Linked DNA regions of Homo sapiens: region 2 is linked to region 1. The links come from fine-mapping of genetic effects on gene expression. A gene starts in region 1. The other region holds a variant in brackets. All regions are shown on one strand. Distances are from middle to middle.

The links. PIP is the estimated chance that this variant, and not a neighbour inherited with it, causes the effect. A credible set is the group of variants that fine-mapping cannot tell apart.
Region 2: its variant is the best candidate, but not a certain one, in a credible set for the expression of MKS1 in aorta (GTEx, PIP 0.77).

Annotation. Positions count from the first base shown.
Region 1 is chr17:58,217,402-58,221,922 of GRCh38, forward strand. MKS1 (MKS transition zone complex subunit 1) reads right to left here and starts at 1,854. Exons shown (of 18, transcript NM_017777.4): 1 at 1,750-1,854; 2 at 1,219-1,328. The coding sequence starts at 1,829. LOC105371841 (a long non-coding RNA gene) reads left to right here and starts at 1,913. Exons shown (of 2, transcript XR_934884.4): 1 at 1,913-2,658. RefSeq lists an enhancer at 1,682-1,961.
Region 2 is chr17:58,194,563-58,198,562 of GRCh38, forward strand. EPX (eosinophil peroxidase) reads left to right here. Exons shown (of 13, transcript NM_000502.6): 6 at 402-608; 7 at 2,377-2,695. Among named protein-coding and RNA genes, the nearest start is that of EPX, 3.8 kb to the left of the region's middle. The variant A/G (reference allele first, on the strand shown) is at 2,210.

The sequences.
Region 1 (4,521 bases):
GGCATTTTTATCTTTACTATTTCTAAAGCCATATATGTAGAATCACAAACACTGAAATTTAGGAGACCAAGTGTAAGGAGAGGACAGTGAAGGCAAATAAATGATTTTTTAACAGAACCAAATCTGGCTGAATGCAGTGACTCACGCCTGTAATCCCAACATTTTGGGAGGCTAAGGTGGGAGGATCACTTGGGCCCAGGAATTTGAAACCAGCCTGGACAACATAGCAAGACCTTTTCTCTACTAAAACTTTAAAAAAAAATAAACTGAGTGTGAGTCTGTAGTCCCAGCTAGTTGGGAGGCTGAGGCAGGAGGATGGCTTGAGCCTGGGAGACCAAGGTTTACAGTGAGCTATGATCATACCACTGCACTCCAGCCTGAGCAGAAGAATGAGATTCTGTCTCAAAACAAAACGAAAACAAAAACAAAGAAAACAAATCTAATCTAATACACTCTTGGGTATGCCTTTTTCAGAGACACGTTTCACAACCTGTGAGCCCACACTCTTGCCCAGGAACAGCTCTGAACAGAAAGAGAAACAATAAAAGCAAACAGACTAGTGACCTGACAACAACCACTCTGTCCTCTCCTCCTCATTCTTTTGGTTTCCCAGATAAGGAAAACCACAAGAACACAGTTGATCTATACATGCACATCATATGCAGATTTTGCAAGCAGTCTCCAGTTTAAAAATTGTTTTTAAAAGTGTTTATATGTGTATTTAGGGTTTGGGGCACGTTTTCTCTTTTAAAAATGCCACAAATAGGACGGGCGCGGTGGCTCACGCCTGTAATCCCAGCACTTTGGGAGGCCAAGGCGGGCGGATCACGAGGTCAGGAGATCGAGACAATCCTGGCTAACACGGTGAAACCCCGCCTCTACTGAAAATACAAAAAATTAGCCGGGCGTGGTGGCGGGCGCCTGTAGTCCCAGCTACTCGGGAGGCTGAGGCAGGAGAATCGCGTGAACCCGGGAGGCGGAGCTTGCAGTGAGCGGAGATAGCGACACTGCACTTCAGCCTGGGGGAAAGAGCAAGACTCCGTCTCAAAAAAAAAAAAAAAAAAAAAAAAAAAAAAAAAGCCACAAATAGAATGTAGGTTGCCGGGCAACTCTATAACATATCAGAAGTATAGTATTTGTTATCTCACTACATTTGGCCACAATTCTGATTAGTATCATAATTAGTATTAGATGGCACATCACCACCGTAACACCCACTGGCAGTTGGCTGAGGCCTAAAAGTGGCCAAGTCTATGAGGTCCTTCCCGAGCTCGGCAGCAGGCTGATAATGAAGAAAGTTGCTTGATGTGATTCTTTGCAGGTGGACTCTGTCAAGAAAAGCCCAAAATATTCGTTACCAGACACGCAACCAGGAGATGAACACAAAGCAAGGATGGGGGAAACAAAACAGAGGAGGTAGGGTTGCCAAGGTGTGCTGGGTGCAGACAACGGAGAGGAGGTGGGTGGGTGCGCCGTCCTATGGGGAAGAATGAAGGGGAGAGGGTGTACTGGGGGCACAGGGCTTTGAGAAACTGGGAGCAACAAAGACGTGAATGGACTTGGGTAGGTCTGTAAGGGGTTCTTAGAGGCTGTGAGTGGATGGGGGTACGGATAGTGAAAGAAGTGGGGAGCCCGGAGAAGTGGTCGGGATTGTAAGCAGAAAGTGGGGACCTCAGAACACCGAGCTCAGGTTGGAATGATCTAAGGACACAAAAGCATGGGGCCTCGGGGCTGGGGCGGTGCGACTACCGGAGGCGCAAGTTGCGCACGGGGTCCCGGGAGCGATACACTGCCTCCCCGGTGTCAGTGCTCCAGACGGTCTCCGCCATGACAGCTGCGACGCGCCGCGACTGCGCCGGAAAGCGCGCCGCTCTGTTTTCCTGGCAACGGAGACGCTGGATCGGGAGGCGACGGAGGTGCTGCGCGCGCAACCCGCCGTTCCCGTCACGGCGCCACGGTCGCAGTTGGCCACACAGTGCAAGTGCAGCCCAAGCCGAACGCCCAAGAGGGCTCCGGGGTCCTACCGATCACCGCTTACCATGTATGCGATAAAAGCTCACCGAAAGCGGGACCTCGTGCGCTGTGCAAATGAGGAAACTGGCACAGCCATCAGCCCACTTCATATAGACAGATAGATGCAGAAATGATGACGGGGACCAGGTGGCCTGAGTCTTCGCCCTCTACCTTTTCCACCATGCCACACTGCCTTCCACCCAACGCGTGAAAACTTTGGCCTGAAAATCGGGTGATGTGACTGTAAGAAATGCACCCATTATTCCCAAAGGAGTCAGGGAAGGTGATGGCCCTTAGCCAGACAAGAAAATATATTCTTGGAAGACAAAAAAAGTGTCAGAAGATTTATTAGTCTTTGTGTTGATATTCACTGAGCAAAGAAAGAAAAAACAAGGAAGTCAACAGTAAGGAAGGAAACGATGTTATTATTGAACTGATTCTTACCTTGTGTATGTTAGTTTTGGATCATTAAGCCACTTTGTTACTGCACTGGCTTCCTGAAAAGCCAAAAAAGTGACATTCACAAGTCATGCTTCGTTGTACTAGCAAAGGAAGGACATGCTGTAACCTCACGTCTGGCGTCCCGGCACTTTGGGAATGTCAACATTTATCAGCCTTGTTCACATCTAGTCCTCCTCCAACAAAGTAAGCAATTGTCCCCTGAACTCGGGAATCTCATGCCAGTTTGATGATTTGGCATTGGAAGCTCTGGGTGCCATAGCCACTAGTTGTGTAACACCGACTCACCATAAATAGCACCATTTATTTAGGATCTAGTGCAGCTTGAGCACTTTTGTTTGCATTGTCCCAAATCCTTGTAGAAGCCTCTCAAAAAGGTACTTTTATTCACTTTAAAAATGAAGTTCGTGAAGGCCAGGGTTTAAAGGACTTGCTAGCTTGCAAGTGGTAAAAGTACTGGGATTCTAGCCCAAGTTCTTCTGTCTTTTGAAGCCTAACCACCTTCCAGTTTGCCTCACAGCCTCTCACCTACCAATTTATTCCATAAACGCACACATTTCCAACCTGGGAAATAATAATTTTTTTTTTTTTTTTTTTGAGACGGAGTCTCGCTCTGTCGCCCAGGCTGGAGTGCAGTGGCGGGATCTCGGCTCACTGCAAGCTCCGCCTCCCGGGTTCACGCCATTCTCCTGCCTCAGCCTCCCAAGTAGCCGGGACTACAGGCGCCCGCCACTACGCCCGGCTAATTTTTTGTATTTTTAGTAGAGACGGGGTTTCACCGTTTTAGCCGGGATGGTCTCGATCTCCTGACCTCGTGATCCGCCCGCCTCGGCCTCCCAAAGTGCTGGGATTACAGGCGTGAGCCACCGCGCCCGGCCGGAAATAATTTTAACATAAAACAAAAGGCACCTTTCTAGCTCCTAAGAAATTGTCTCTCCAATGTTTCCTTTTAAAATTGTGAGTAGGCAATCTGTGCCACATGCACAACAGCTGATAAAGTGGAGCCTGATTCTAGTTTAATTTTATAACCAAATCTAACTTATAACAAAGTTAATCTGACATAATTATATGCAAAATAGTTTCTATACCACGTTATGGAAATATAAGCTATTTGTGTAAGCAACCATAATTAGTATTATTTTTATATAGGTAAACTAAGTTTTCATGTTTTGTTTACTGATTTCTATGAATCAGGATCCTTTTATGTTTAAATATTCAGCTTATTGGTCTTAAGTACATTTACCTTGTTTTTCAACCATCATCACCATCCATCGCCACTACTTTCTTATTTTTGAAAATTGAAACTCTGTTCCCATTAAATAGTAACTCCTCATTCCCCTCTTCCAGCCCCTGGCAACTACCATTCTACATTTTCTCTCTATGAAATTTGACTGTTTTAGATACCTAATCCATATTGTAGCATGTGTCAGAATGTCCTTTTTTTTTTTTTTACTTTAAATTCCGGAATACATGTACAGAACATGCAGGTTTGTTACATAAGTATACATGTGCCATGGTGGTTTGCTGCACCTATCAACCCATCACCTAGATTTTAAGCCCTGAATGCATTAGTTATTTGTCCTAATGCTCTCCCTCCCCCTGCCCCAGACTTTGCGACAGGCCCCAGTGTGTGGTGTTCCCCTCCCTGCGTCCATGTGTTCTCATTGTTCAACTCCCACTTATGAATGACAACATGCAGTGTTTGGTTTTCTGTTCCTGTGTTAGTTTGCTGAGGATGATGGCTTCCAGCTTCATCCATGTCCCTCCAAAGGACATGATCTCATTCCTTTTTATGGCTGCATAGTATTACATGGTGTATATGTACCACATTTTCTTTATCCAGTCTATCACTGATGGGCATTTGGGTTGGTACCATGTCTTTGACATTGTAACTAGTGCTCCAGTAAACATACGTGTGCATGTGTCTTTATAGTAGACTGGCTTATATTTCTTTGGGTATATACCCAGTAATGAGATTGCTGGGTCAAATGATATTTCTGGTTCTAGATCCTTGAGGAATCCGCACACTGTCTTCCACAATGGTTGAAC
Region 2 (4,000 bases), 23 kb before region 1:
TGCTGACCCCGTACTCCCTACGTGTATTATCCATCACCTGGCAACCAGCCCATGCACCTGTGAATCCGTGCTATCATCTGGTTAGCTATCAGTGTACAAATTGATCTATCTATTTGATCTCCCTTCCCCTCTGGGAGAGCTGGTGAGGTCTGAGCCAGTCAACCTAGCCCCTCTCCTTCTCTTTACCACCGGAATCCTCAGGAGCCCAGCCAGAAACCATCCTTCTAGGAATGAGAGCAGGAGGTGGCTACGCCTCCAGGGACAAAAGGGGCATGGAGGGCAGAAGAGGAGAGGCTGTCAATTCCAGCAGGGGAGCTGCTGCTCCCTGAGTCCTGGGTTGGCTCTAATACCTTGTGGGGTCAGGGAGCCCATGTCCCGTGCTGATGTTATTTCCCCACCAGGTCCGGGCTGTCTCCAACCAGATTGTGCGCTTCCCCAATGAGAGACTGACCTCCGACCGTGGCCGAGCCCTCATGTTCATGCAGTGGGGCCAGTTCATTGACCATGACCTGGACTTCTCCCCGGAGTCCCCGGCCAGAGTGGCCTTCACTGCAGGCGTTGACTGTGAGAGGACCTGCGCCCAGCTGCCCCCCTGCTTTCCCATCAAGGTACCTACCCTCAGCCAATCTCCCATGCCCTTGTGTGGCCTCCCCCAAAGGCAAGGTGCTGGGGGTGGGGATCTGGAAGACTGGAGCACCATCCTTAAGGAGCTGCCTGTGGAGCTAGGGTATGAGACAGAGACACAAGAAACACAGCTGAGCAGAGACCCCGCGCCGTGTGTGTTTGAGAGGTGGGGGTAGGGCAATCTGCCAGGAGGCTCAGGTCAGGCTTCATGGAGTGGGAAGCCCTTGACACATGCCTTGACCCATGGGTCTGAATCCAACAGGGGAAGCCTCTGGGCCCCTGCTTTTGGCAACCTAAGGGCCTCTTAGCTCTTGCCCTTCTCTCCTTCCCAGAGTAGTCCAAGGGTCCTGCGGCTCTTGCCAGCTTCTTGGGCTTGGGCTGTAAGTAGGGTCCTAACCTTCAGGCTAGAAGCCAAGGACAGTGTGGGGCACTAGGGGAGGAAAGATAGAATCCAGGGAGCAGAGTCTCTGCTAGGAACATAGGGTTGACACACGTGCACACACACACTCTCTCACACACACACACGTGCACACACACGCTCCCTCTCACACACACATGTACACACACAGTCACCCTTAATAGGTGGGGCCACATTCATGAGGGATGACATGTGAGGGCCTCTGGATGGCCTCTCCCTGTTGCAACCTTATCTATTCCTCAATCCCTGGCTTAGGGGCACCTCCTCTGGGGAGCCTTCTCAGATCTTCCTATTACACTTTTAACATATGTCCTCCCCTCCCCTCTCCTCTCTCTCCTTCCTTCCTTCTTCCTTCCTCTTTCTTTCTTTCTTCTTTCTTTCCTTTCCTTCCTTCCTTCCCTTCCTTCCTTCATTTCCTTCCTTCCTTTCTTTCTTTCTTTTTCTTTCTTTTTCTTTCTTCCGTCCTTTCTTTCTTTATCTTTCCTTCTTTCTTTCTTCTTTATTATTATTATTATTGTTTTGAGACAGAATCTCACTCTGTTGTCCAGACTGGAGTACAGAGGGGCAATCTCAGCTCACTGCAACCTCTGCCTCCTGGGTTCAAGCAGTTCTCATGCCTCAGCCTCCCGAGTAGCTGGGATTACAGGCATGTGCCAACAAGCCTGGCTAATTTTTGTATTTTTAGTAGAGATTGGGTTTCACCATGTTGACAAGGCTGATCTCAAACTTCTGGCCTCATGTAATCCACCTGCCTCGGCCTCCCAAAGTGCTAGGATTATAGGCGTGAGCCACCACACCTGGCCCACATATGGCTTTTCTATCAAGCACAGCAGATGCCACTTCAACTTAGTTTCTTAACTCTATGTGTGTGTGTCTTTTTCCACTGAACTGCCAGCTTCCTGCAACCTTTCCTGTGTTTTTTTAACCTTCATAATCTCCAAAGCAGCAAGCAAGAAAGGGGCTTAGAAAAGGTCTGTCGAATTGAACAGAATTAAAGAAGCTCAGGCCTAAGAGTCAAGAGAACTAAGTTCTAATCCCACCTTTCCTGCTAACTGGTTGTCACTTCCCCTCTCTGAGGCTGTTTTCCTTGCTGTAAAATGAGGATCGAGATTGTTTCAAAAGCCTCATTCATTCCTAACCTTTTGAGACTCTATGAAACAAAATGTT[A/G]AGGACACTCAGACTGACGGGGTGAGCAGCATGAGCCTGGGTGAGTCAAGGAGGGCTTCCTGGAGGAAGGGAGTTTTAAGCAAGGTTTTGAGGAGGTGGAAGATGACGGAGAGGAGTGAGTCTGCTATTGAGGGGGCCCCATGTCACTGTCTCCTCTTCCATCTCAGATCCCACCCAATGACCCCCGCATCAAGAACCAGCGTGACTGCATCCCTTTCTTCCGCTCGGCACCCTCATGCCCCCAAAACAAGAACAGAGTCCGCAACCAGATCAACGCGCTCACCTCCTTTGTGGACGCCAGCATGGTGTATGGCAGTGAGGTCTCCCTCTCGCTGCGGCTCCGCAACCGGACCAACTACCTGGGGCTGCTGGCCATCAACCAGCGCTTTCAAGACAACGGCCGGGCCCTGCTGCCCTTCGACAACCTGCACGATGACCCCTGTCTCCTCACCAACCGCTCGGCGCGCATCCCCTGCTTCCTGGCAGGTCAGACAGGGAGGAAGGTGGTGTCTTCCCAGGAAACAGCCATCCCTGGGGTCCCAACTGGGAAGCAATGGTGGGATGTGGTGAAGGTACATGGTTTGGGACCTCAGTATTAGGCACACCATAAGCATGGATCTGTGCACAGCCATCATAGAATCAGAACGTTGAGTCCCTTTGCAAGCTCCCTGTGTGTGGCCAGAGATAACTGCTTAACCGTCTCCAGTGACAAGGCTCTCACCGCCTCTATGGCACCCCAGCTCAGCCACAGGCAGCTCCGACTGTTAGAAAGTCTCCTTATTTTGATCACATATTCACCTATTCCCCTTAATCATGCTTCTGGAACCTCAGAAAAGACACTGTCCCTCTTACACGCAGGAATACCTCAAAGTAGCTGTTAACTCCATCTCCATTTTTTTTCTCTTCTCTGGGATAAATTTCCGTAGTTCCTCCCTGTCCCCAGCTGTTGCTAGACAGTTAATACCCTCTTCTGGAAGCATAATTTGAACTTTCCTCAGGGTCTTTTGTCCCATGTACATGGTTACAATAATAATGGTAGTCATTTCTCATTAAGATATTTATCTTATTATTATTATTATTTTAAGATGGAGTCTCACTCTGTCGCCCAGGCTGGAGTGCAGTGGCGTGATCTCAGCTCACTGCCACCTCTGCCTCCTGGGTTCAAGTGATTCCCCTGCCTCAGCCTCCCGAGTAGCTGGAATTACAGGTGCCTGCCACCACGTTTGGCTAATTTTTGTATATTTAGTGGAGATAGAGTTTCACCATGTTGGCCAGGCTGGTCTCGAACTCCTGACCTCAGGTGATTCACCTGCCTTGGCCTCCCAAAGTGTTGGGATTACAGGTGTGAGCCACCACGCCCAACCTTATCAAGATATTTAAATGTGCCATCTCTAAACCTTGCAACAGCCCTGAAAGGAGGGAATTATTATTGTTCTCATTTTACGATAAGAAACTGAGACTCAGGGAAAGTGAATCATGCGCCCAAGAGCACAGAGTTAGTTTCAAATGACAGAGTCCACTTGAGAACACAGTCAGTGTAGTATCAAGGTCTCTGCCCAGTCCACTGTATTCCACTGTTTTCCTCACAGAGAGTCGGCCCCAACCCCTCTTTTGAAGGATTGTACATTTGTGTGTCCTGGAAAGAGCAGCTTGTGCCTTCGGGAGAGGTCAACTGAACTAAGACCTTGTGCAAAAGGGTTTAGTTAAAACCAAGCAAATGATGGAATTAACTTTCTTTCCCTGCCTGTAGTAGGTCTGTTCGTAAGGACAGTCTCTGCCCAACCCTCCCTC